2 linked regions of the Homo sapiens genome follow. The protein of the gene in region 2 purifies or fractionates together with the protein of the main gene of each other region. This does not show direct contact. Each region holds a gene or a part of one and is shown on either strand. Other genes may lie near its edges.

Evidence for each region.
Region 1: the proteins of COQ10A (region 2) and ALDH1L1 purify together in Homo sapiens (co-immunoprecipitation; one large-scale study listed by IntAct). This does not show direct contact.

Annotation. Positions count from the first base shown.
Region 1 is NC_000003.12:126,170,246-126,175,093, forward strand, and holds part of ALDH1L1 (cytosolic 10-formyltetrahydrofolate dehydrogenase), read right to left. Parts: intron 1-4,848. UniProt on the Homo sapiens protein: Cytosolic 10-formyltetrahydrofolate dehydrogenase that catalyzes the NADP(+)-dependent conversion of 10-formyltetrahydrofolate to tetrahydrofolate and carbon dioxide.
Region 2 is NC_000012.12:56,263,860-56,269,741, reverse strand, and holds the start of COQ10A (coenzyme Q-binding protein COQ10 homolog A, mitochondrial), read right to left. Parts: upstream 2,801-5,882; 5' UTR 2,624-2,800; coding exon 2,490-2,623; intron 2,417-2,489; exon of another isoform or gene 2,347-2,416; coding exon of another isoform or gene 2,309-2,346; intron 1,949-2,308; coding exon 1,802-1,948; intron 684-1,801; coding exon 491-683; intron 283-490; coding exon 181-282; intron 1-180.

The DNA.
Region 1 (4,848 bases), on a different chromosome or scaffold from region 2:
AACTGCTGTACTCACTCTACTATTTGCAGTAGGACTGTGAACCCTCAGAGTGGAATATCTGACAGAGAATCTCAATTACTGTAGCATTTTGCTTAATTATTATCCTCATAGCAGGAATAACAGTTACTAACAAAAAATAACACATGGGTCTTTCCAAACATGCACCTCTGCCTGTCATTAAAAAAAAAAAAAAAAAAAGTTACTTCTGTCTCAACCAGTCGGGCCTAATAAAAAATGCTGCTGAAAAGCCTAGGACTAATGTTTTTACTCTGCCTAATTAACCTTTATCAAAAATTTTTAACCGACAGAATCATGGCCATTTCGCAACTACCCAAAAACATCTACAAATGGTGTTGATCCTACAGTCAATCTAAGACCAAAAAACTCTCCACCCCCGCATCAGCAGGAAGTAGCTAGAAAGAACATGTCCCCTCTTGTCCTTTTATAACCATAGGGTCTGGAATGATAGAGCAGGAGTACTGTCATCTCAGACAAACACCGCCACTTTAAATTCCAGCTCCCTTTCTAGCCTCATGCATTTCAAGGAAATCACTTCTCTTCTAACTACAAGCAGCCAGAAAGAGCAGACAGTAAAACACGGATAAGACAGCTGGGACACAAAGGGAGGTGGGGGGAAAGTATCTTGGGTAACTGCCAAACTTCACCCTCATACGATGGGCCCCAGTAAAACAGTGGGCCTTAATAATAAGGAACAAGCACATTCCCTTTCCTTCAGGGGCACTAAGACAGGAAAGCTAAAAGCAGACTCTTGGCTGGGCGCGGTGGCTCATGCCTGTAATCCCAGCACTTTGGGAGGCCGAGGCGGGCGGATCACGAGGTAAGGAGATCAAGACCATCCTGGCTAACACGGTGAAACCCCGTCTCTACTAAAACTACAAAAAATTAGCCAGGCGTGGTGGCGCATGCCTGTAGTCCCATCTACTCAGGAGGCTGAGGCAGGAAAATCGCTTGAACCTGGGAAGCAGAGGTTGCAGTGAGCCGAGATGGCGCCACTGCACTCCGGCCTAGCGACAGAGCGAGACTCTGTCTCAATAAATAAGTAAAAACAGACTCAGGGACTATACCTGCAGCTGCAGGAAAAATGTATGAAAACAGGCACACAACTCTCCCTCCCAGATAAGCACAACAAAGAGACACAGAAGCAGTCCAAGCCTCTGATAAACTCTCCCATCCTGAATCCTTAAAAACTCAGTCTGTAAGAGAGTGTGCCTCTGACCTAACTTGGCCAGAAGGCTCCTTTCAGGTTGATTTTCTCTAAAATAAATGTCTTAACTGGCAAGCCAGCTTTTGTATTTCTTTCCTCTTTCTTTAATTCTTACAGTTCTCACAGTAAGGATTGGAGAAAAATCCCCTTCTGGTTTTGGCAGGAGGCAAGGAAAGCAGTCATTTTTTTCTCAACATATCTACCCTCATAGAAACTATTATACCAGAGCCTAAGTGAATGGACACCCAGGGCCTAACTAACCTAAGTGATGAGGAAAAACCCAAATCCAGCCCCTCTAGCCTTTCTCATCACCTAAAAGGGGTAGGACTGAGAAACACTTGTGAAGGTCACAGCCCAGGGGTGCAGGCTCACTGAAACACTAAGACCTAATTGTAGGACTGTAAAACACTTCCCCCCACCAAAACACCTTGCTACTACATCCACAGGGCTCCAGTATAGTAACAAGGGGATTACGGATAAGAGAACTGCAAGCCAGAGCCTATTTAAGGAGTTTCTACAAAAACCCAAAGACAACAGGGTAGACAAAAACAAGAAGATGAAGAGAGAAAATTATATCCTCTGATACCCACAGCTATAGCAAATAGTAAACACATTCTAACTCCTAGACAGGTAAATATCAAACCTCACACTAAAAGCCTATCTACCTCAGTACCTTTTACCCAATACATTATATCTGATTTTCTGCAAAACAATTACAAGATATATAAAAGACAAAAACACAGTTTGCAAAGATGAAACAAGCACCTAAACCACAATCAGATATGGAAGCAATGTTGGAATTTTCAGATGGAAAATTTAAAACAATGATAATTAAAATGCTAAGAGCTCTAATGGAAAAATGTGGAGAACATATAAGAACAAATTGGTCATGTAAGCAGAGAGATGGAAATTAAGAAAAAAATCAAAAAAAGTCTAGAAATAAAAACCCTGTGATAAATGCAAAGAATGTCTTTAATAGGTTTATCAATAGACTGGATACAGTTGAGGAAATAATCAATGAGATGGATGAAATATCAACAAACACTTCCCAAACTGAAATGCAAAGGGAAATATAGAATAAAAAAGACAAAACAGAATATCCAAGAATGGTGGGACAATTGCCATAGGTGTAAATCCTTGTAATAGGGATATCAGATGGAATAAAAAGAAAGAAAGGAATAGTAAAAATGTTTGAAGTGATAATGACTGATAATTTTCCAAAATTAAAGACAGATACCAAACCAAGATCCAAGCAGCTCAGAGGAAACCAAATAGGATAAAGATCACCCCCCACCCCCCAAAAAATCTATACTTAGGCATATCATATTCAAACTGCAAAAAATAAAAGACACAGAGATAATCTTCAGTGAAGCCAGGGAGAGGCAGGGCAGGACACCTTACCTATAGAGGGAGAGAGATGAGGATTACATCAAACGTCTCTTCATAAACCATGCAATCAGGAATAGAATAGAAAGAATTATTTAAAGAACTGAAAACATTCCATCAACTTAGAACTAACTAGATTCCATCTGTATGCAGTAAAATTGTCCTTCAAAAGTGGAGGAGAAAGACTTCTCAAACAAAAATTGAAGGAATTTGTCACCAGTAAACTGCCTTACAAGATATGTTAAAAGAAGTAATTCAGAAAAAAAGGAAAATTAAACAAGTCAGAAACTCAACATACAAAAGAGTATTAGAAATAAATGTGAAATAATTTTTTTTCTTATTCTTAATCTGAGAGATAACAATTTGTTCAAAATAATAATTGCAACAATGTATTCAGTGATTGTAGCTTATGGATAAGTGAAATGAATGATAGCAGTAATAATAAGGCATGGGAGGGAGGAATCAAGAATACTCTGCAATAAGGCCCTTACACTACCCATAAAGTTGTATAGTGTTATTCAAAAGCAGACTTAAATTAGATTTAAGTGTATATTGCAAACTGTAGGTCAACCACTAAAAAAGCAACAACAAAAAAGTAAAACTGATATGCTAAGAGAGAAAAGAAAATGGAATCATATAAAATGCTCAGTTAAGATCAGAAAAGGCAGAAAAAAGTGTGGAAGAAAAAAGAAACAAAGGGCAAATAGAAAACAGTAATAAATATGGTAAATATTAATCCAACTATATCAAAAAATCACTTCAAATATCAATGGTGTAAATATACCAATTAAAACATGTGACTATCTAGAGTGAATAAAGAATCGTGACCTAACTATATGTTGTCTACAACAAACCCATTTCAACATAAAAACCAGATAGGTTACAAATAAAGGGATGGAGAAAGATATACCGTGCTACCACTAATCAAAAGAAATATGGAGTAGTTCTATTAACTTCAGATAAAGCAGACTTCAGAGAAAGGAAAATTATTAGGAATAAAGAGAAGCACTACATAATGGTAAAGGAGTCAATTATCCCAGCAGACATAATACTCCTTAATATGTATGTGCCTAACAACAGTGCTAAAATGTGTAAAGCAAAAACTGACAGAATTTTAAGGAGAAATAGATGAATCCACTATTATTACAGTTGGAGACATCAACACCTCTCTGTCAGTCCCCACTAACGTTTTTTTTGGGGGGGCGGAGTTTCACTCTTGTTGCCCAGGCTGGAGTGCAGTGGCACGATCTCGGCTCACTGCAACCTCCGCCTCCCGGGTTCAAGCAATTCCCCTGCCTCAGCCGCCCGAGTAGCTAGGATTACAGGCATGCACCACCACGTCCGGCTAATTTTGTATTTTTAGTAGAGCCTCCATGTTGGTCAGGCTGGTCTCGCACTCCTGACCTCAGGTGATCTGCCCACCTCGGCCTCCCAAAGTGCTGGTATTACAGGCGTAAGCCACCGTGCCTGGCCAGTACCCACTAACTGATAGATCCAGCAGGCTGGAAATCAGTAAGGACATAGTTGAACAGCACCATCAATTAAGTGTATCTAATTGGCATTTAGAGAATACTTCACCCAACAACAACAGAATACACATTCTTCTCAAGTTCACATGGAATATTCATCAAGACAGACCACATTCTGTGCCATAAAACATACAACAACAAATATCAATGACTTCTATGATGGAGATTACTGAGATCACAACAGAATCACTAGAAATCAATAACAGAAAGATATCTGAAAAACATTAAAAAAATGGAAACTAAATGACACACTTCTAAACAACATGTAAACAAATCAAAGAATAACTCTCAAGAAAAAATTTAAAATATTTCAAACTAAATTAAAATGAAAATATAACATCAAAATTTATGGGATGCTGCTAAAGTAGTGTTTAGAGGGAAATTTAGAGCACTGAATGCATATATTATTAAAGAAGAAAGAGCTAAAAGCAAGTTTCCAAATTAGGAAACTAGAAAAAGAAGAGCAAATTAAATCCAAAATAAACAGAAGAAAGGAAATAATAAAAATTACAGCAGAACTTGTGAAATTGAAAACATGCTGTCAATAGAGAAAATCAACAAAACCTAAAGCTGGTTCCTTGAAAAGATGAATAAAACTGAGACACCTCTAGCCAGGTTAACTAAGAAGAAAAAGAGAGAAGACTCAAATTACTAATATCAAAAATGAAAGAAGGGCCATCAATACTGATCCTACGGTCATTAAAAGGA
Region 2 (5,882 bases):
GCAGGAAAATCGCTTGAACCCAGAAGGTGGAGGTTGCAGTGAGCCAAGATCGTGCCATTGCACTCCAGCCTGGGTGACGGAGCAAGACTCCATCTCAAATAAATTAATAACCCTGTCACAGTACCCCAGCCCTTCCTCATACCCAGTCCTCGTCCTCTGCTACACAACCTCCTGACTCACCGAAAAGTCCACAGTGCAGGTTCGAGGATAGGCAGGAATACCAGGGCTGAATCGCCAAATAGTCTCTAAGTGGTTGAAGAGCTTGCCATCAGTACAAACAGCCTAGAATAGGGTAATCAGGTAGTTAAATAACATTACTAAGTATAGGATACAATATAAAGGAATTGAAAGCCATTTTCCTTCTTTTCTGATATGAGGGAAATACTTGACACATGGACATAAAGTACTTACAAGGAAGGCCAAAATAGCACTTTCATATGAAACTGCTAAAAACAAAAAATCTTGTCAATCCCTCCCATACAGGCCTCACCTTGACCATGTGAGGTTTGACCATGGAAACTGCAGAGGTGTAACGTTCCATGACAGGTGGAAAGCCAACCTCCAGCTGGGCTTTCAAATGACCCTTACGGCTGGATACCACCAGAGACTTCTTACACCAGGGCACAAACTCACGATACTCCTGGACGTTGGACACCACCTCATACATCTCCTGCATTGAGTACCTAGGAGAAGAAGAATCACAGGCCAAGGAGCTGCCAGCTGGGTCAGGTTCCTCCTTGCTATAGGCCCCTAATTCATACCTTTGCCCACTAACCACGCACCTTCAGGAACTACAGATCCCAAATAAGCCTGGATGAATAACTTCCCAAAAGCAAACGTGTAAATCCTTATGATACTGTTACCTTATATTTTGCAGTTTACAGAATGCTTTTGCATTCATTGTTTATTTTGATTTTAAGAGGGACCATCTAGGGAGAACAGAGGCTGTCAGTTTTACTGGTGATCACACAAGGATCAGATCCCAGCTCTTAACAATTTTTTAACAATGTGGCCTTAGGTAAATTACCTGTGTCTCCATTTTCTCACCTGATTTATAGGTTTGTTGTGAGAATTAAATGAGAAATATCTATGTAAAACATCTAAGTCAAGCTGCTAGCATGTAGCAAGTGCTCGATAATTTAGCTATTATGCTCAAAATATACTAAAAAGGTTACGCTGCTAATTTACACATACTAGGTACCCATAAAAATTATTTTTAAATGGTCACCAGAAAAATACACCCTGTTTTTTGTTTTGTTTTTTGAGACAGTCTTGCTCTGTCGCCCAGGCTGGAGTGCAGTGGGGCAATCTCAGCTCACTGCAACCTCTGCCTCCCAGGTTCCAGCGATTATCCTGCCTCAGCCTCCCAAATAGCTGGGATTAAAGGCGCCCGCCACCGTGCCAGGCTGATTCTTGTGTGTGTGTTTTTTTTTAGTGGAGACAGGGTTTCACCATGTTGGCCAGGCTGGTCTCGAACTCCTGACCTAAAACGATCGGCCCGCCTCAGCCTCCCAAAGTCCTGGGATTACAGGCGTGAGCCACCGCACCCAGCTACGCCCTGTTGTCTTAAAGTATAGTCCAACCCTAGTCTCATTTCACTTAAGCACATGCACAGCAACCAAGAAGGGAGAAATTAAGGTCGGAAGAGTGGCAGGGGAGGACTGAGGATCAGTATTGTAGCTGGGGAGGGGGATGGCTAGGGATGAATCTTGCCCACCGATGATACCCTGACATTCTTGCCTGGACAGGGTTATTTGGAGGGAAAAGGGAGGTGCAAGGATGCAAGGCAGAGAATGCTTACCCCATGATTCTACGCTCCGAGTAAGCCTTTCGCTTGTTGGTGAAGGGAGCAGCAAATCCCATGAAGGAACGGCTCGAAGGTAAGCCAGCCTCAGCCGCCAAGATCTGGGCAGCCCGAGGCAAGAGGAGGCTGCAGGAGGTCAGAAACCTAAGGCCAAAGGAAAGAGGAGCCAACCGTATAGTTCTTCGTAATCCTCTATCATTTGTAGGTGAAGGAGAAGAAGAGTGCATCCCAGACGAAGGTCGTCCAAACAAGCTTTCCCCCCAGCACCTGCTGCAGCCCGCTAGGCTCTCTCTGGCCAGGGAGTCACGAGTGCAAAAGGTCGAGGGCAGCTAAGGACAGGGCTGGGGGCGGGGTGAGGGGGATGAGAAAAAGGGGTGTGTGGGAAGCGCCAGTTGCCTTTGACTGGGCCTACACTACTGCTGAAAGCTAAGACTTTAAGGAAGCATCACTGTCCCCGGGGACCCCAGGGCGCCCGCGAGGGCCAAGAAGAGGTTGGACACTCACCCCGAGAACTTCCCTTCTCGTACAACTTGCAAAAGCATTATCCAAAGCTCTACGTTAGCTCCCAGGGCATGATTGCTGCCAGTCCCCGCCGCGCCTGCATCCCAGTATAGCACCCCTCCACCGCGGAACCCCGGGGTTCGCAGCGACCCCCTGCCCTCAGCCGCGGTCACCTCCCTCTCACCTCATTGGTCGCGGCGGTGGCAGAGGGCCTGGGGGCGGGGCCGGTTGCGCGCCCGGGCTGAGCGAGAGCCGGCAGCAGCGCTCGGCTGCCGCGCGCGTCCCAGCTGGGACCCGCCGCGAGCCCGCCCAGGCCATGCGCGCGACCCTGCCTGGCCCTCTAAGTTCTGACGCGGGCTGCGCCCTCCTCACTCCAAAGGCGGAGCGGCAAGAGGCAGCGGCTGGGCTGGTTCGGGACCTCTGAGCGCAGGGGCGACGGGAGGCGGCAGCACCTCTCGCCTTGCTCCCGTCCAGGCTGCCGGGTAGGCTAGAACTGAAGCCGGGACCGCTGCTCCCGCAGATCTCGGTACCCCCACGTCACGCTGTTGCCATGGCTCGGGCCTGGGAGAGGAAGGAAGGAAGGAAGGGGACAACGCCGCCTGTCGGGAGATGTAGTTTCACACCTGTGGCGAGAAAGGGCACTGGGGTGTGCGTTTGAGAAGCTGCAAAGATGGTTCGGGGACTGAGGTCGCCTGTGGTCACAGGACCCGATAGGTAGGCACAGAGGCGACTTCGTGGGCGTGTCTACCGCAGATATCTGTAGATCCTCTGAACGTCGCTGTTAGAGCCTTAGGTTCTCTAGAGGGACATAGTGAATAGGATAAATGTATATATGAAAGGGAGTTTATTAAGAATTGCCTCACAGGATCACAAGGTAAAGTCTCACATTAGGCCGTCTGCAAGTTGAGGAGCAAGGAGGCCAGTGGTGGATCAGTCCAAGGCCCAAAACCTCAAAAGTAGGGAAGCCGGCAGTGCAGCCTTCAGTCTGTGGCCAAAGCCCCGAGAGCCCTTGGCAAACCACTGGTGTAAGTCCAAGAGTCCAAAAGCTGAAGAACTTGGAGTCTGATGTTCGAGGGCAGGAAGCATCCAGCATGAGAGAAAGACGAAGGCCGGAAGACTTCAGCAAGTCAGCTTCTTCCACCTACTTTTACTTTTATTTATTTATTTATTTATTTATTTATTTATTTATTTATTTGAGACGGAGTCTCGCTCTGTTGCCCAGACTGGAGTGCAGTGGCACGATCTCAGCTCACTGCAACCTTGGCCTCCCAGGTTCAAGCGATCCTCCTGCCTCACCACCCCCGCCCCGCCCCCCTCCCCAGTACCTGGGATTACAGGCATGCGCCACCATGCCCAGCTAATTTTTGTATTTTTAGTAGAGATGGGGTTTCGCCATGTTGGCCAGGCTGGTCTCGAACTCCTGACCTCAGGTGATCCACCCGTCTCGGCTTCCCAAAGTGCTGGGATTACAGGTGTTAGCCACCATGCCTAGCCCTGCCTACTTTTTCTAGCGTCGCTGGCAGCGGATTGGATGGTGCCCACCATTGAGACTGGGTCACTTCCTTCCAGTCCACTGACTTAAATGTTAATCTCCTTTGGCAACACCCTCACAGACACTCAGGAACAACACTTTGCCTCCTTCAATCCAATCAAGTTGACACTCAATCATCACAGAGCCTTTATCATATTCGGCCTTGTTTATAGTTAGAAGCACTGTTCATCTTTGTAGCTTCCACAAGTGGTTAGTGCTGTGTTCTACATTTTTGGGAAAGGAGATTAACATTCCAAGCTCTGGGCTAAGACTGCATAGTTTTTACCTTTAATATTTATAGAAAGAAGTCGAGGTAGGAAGAACCAGATATTCTTAGGACAGAGAACCATCTTTGTTTGAAAAGTGTGCGCTTGATGAAGAGTGAGACCTCATGGACAGAAACCCACGCAATTAAATACCACTATACTACTTTTCATGATTCAAGGAGAAAAAAAAAATGCTCTTGGCTAGGCATGGTGGCTCACGTCTGTAATCCCAGCACTTTGGGAGGCTGAGGCGGGCAGATCACTTGAGGTCAGGAGTTCAAGACCAGCCTGGCCAACATAGTGAGACCTTATCTCTACTAAAAATACAAAAATTAGCCAGGTATGGTGGCGGGCGCCTCTAATCCCAGCTACTCGGGAGGCTGAGGCAGGAGAATCGCTTGAACCCAGGAGGCGGAAGTTGGAGTGAGCTGAGATTGTGCCACTGCACTCCAGCCTGAGCAACAGAGCAAGACTCCATCTCAAAAAAAAAAAAAAAAAAAAAAGGAAAGAAAGAAAAGAAAAGAAAGCAAGCGAGCAAGAAAGAGAAAAAATGCTCTTGATAAAAGTCAGGTGGGCCAGGTGCGGTGGCTCATGCCTGTAATCTCAGCACTTTGGGAGGCCGAGGTGGGTGGATCACGAGGTCAGGAGATCGAGACCATCCTGGCTAACAGGGTGAAACTGCATCTCTACTAAAAATACAAAAAATTAGCCGGGCGTGGTGGTGGGTACCTGTAGTCCCAGCTACTCAGGAGGCCGAGGCAGGAGAATGGCATGAACCCGGGGAGCGGAGCTTGCAGTGAGCCAAGATCGCACCACTGCACTCCAGCCTGGGCAGCAGTGCAAGACTCCATCTCAAAAAAAAAAAAAAAAAAAAGTCAGGCAAACAAAAGAAAAAAAGGAAGGGAAGAAAGAAATCAACAATTAGAAAGAGATTGGGCTAAGTGCAGTGGCTCATGCCTGTAATCCCAGCACTTTGGGAGGCTGAGGTGGGAGGATCACTTGAGGCCAGGAGTTCAAGACCAGCCTGGGCAACATAGTGAGAACTTGTCTCTCCAAAAATAAAAAAGAAAAAAAAAAGAGAGACTAGAACTAGGTGGGTGCAAGAGAATGGTGGTGCCTGCTGTTGAGTTTTAAGAAATTCATGCTATTACAGTACAAGCCTTTCCTCTGCTTGCTTTCTAAATCTTCAGTCAAGCTCTCCACTTTCAGGAAATCTTTCCCTGAGAAGTGTTGTGTGTGGTGGTTATGCAGAGGGGCAGGGGATAAAGTAAATAAAGACTGTGTTGTAGCCAGGCATGGTGGCTCATATCTGTAATTGCAGCACTTTGGGAGGTGAAGGTTGGTGGATCACCCGAGCCCGGGAGTTTGAGACCAGCCTGGGCAATATGGTGAAACCTTGTCTCTACAAAAAATACAAAAAAATTTAGCCAGGCATGGTGGCACATGCCTGTAATCCCAGCTACTTGGGAGTCTGAGTTGGATCACCTGGGCCCAGGAGGTTGAGGCTGCAGTGAGCCGTGATTGCACCACTGCACTCCAGTCTGTGTGACGGGAGTGAGACCCTGTCTCAGAAAAACAAAAACAAAAACAAAAAAAGACTGTGTTGCAATTCTTGTCCAACTAATCTGGAAGAGACATCTGGTCTAGAAACAGGGTAGCTCTTGGGCCGGGCACGGTGGCTCACACCTGTAATCCCAGCACTTTGGGAGGCCAAGGCAGGCGGATCATGAGGTCAGGAGATCAAAACCATCCTGGCCAACGTGGCAAAAACCCATTTCTA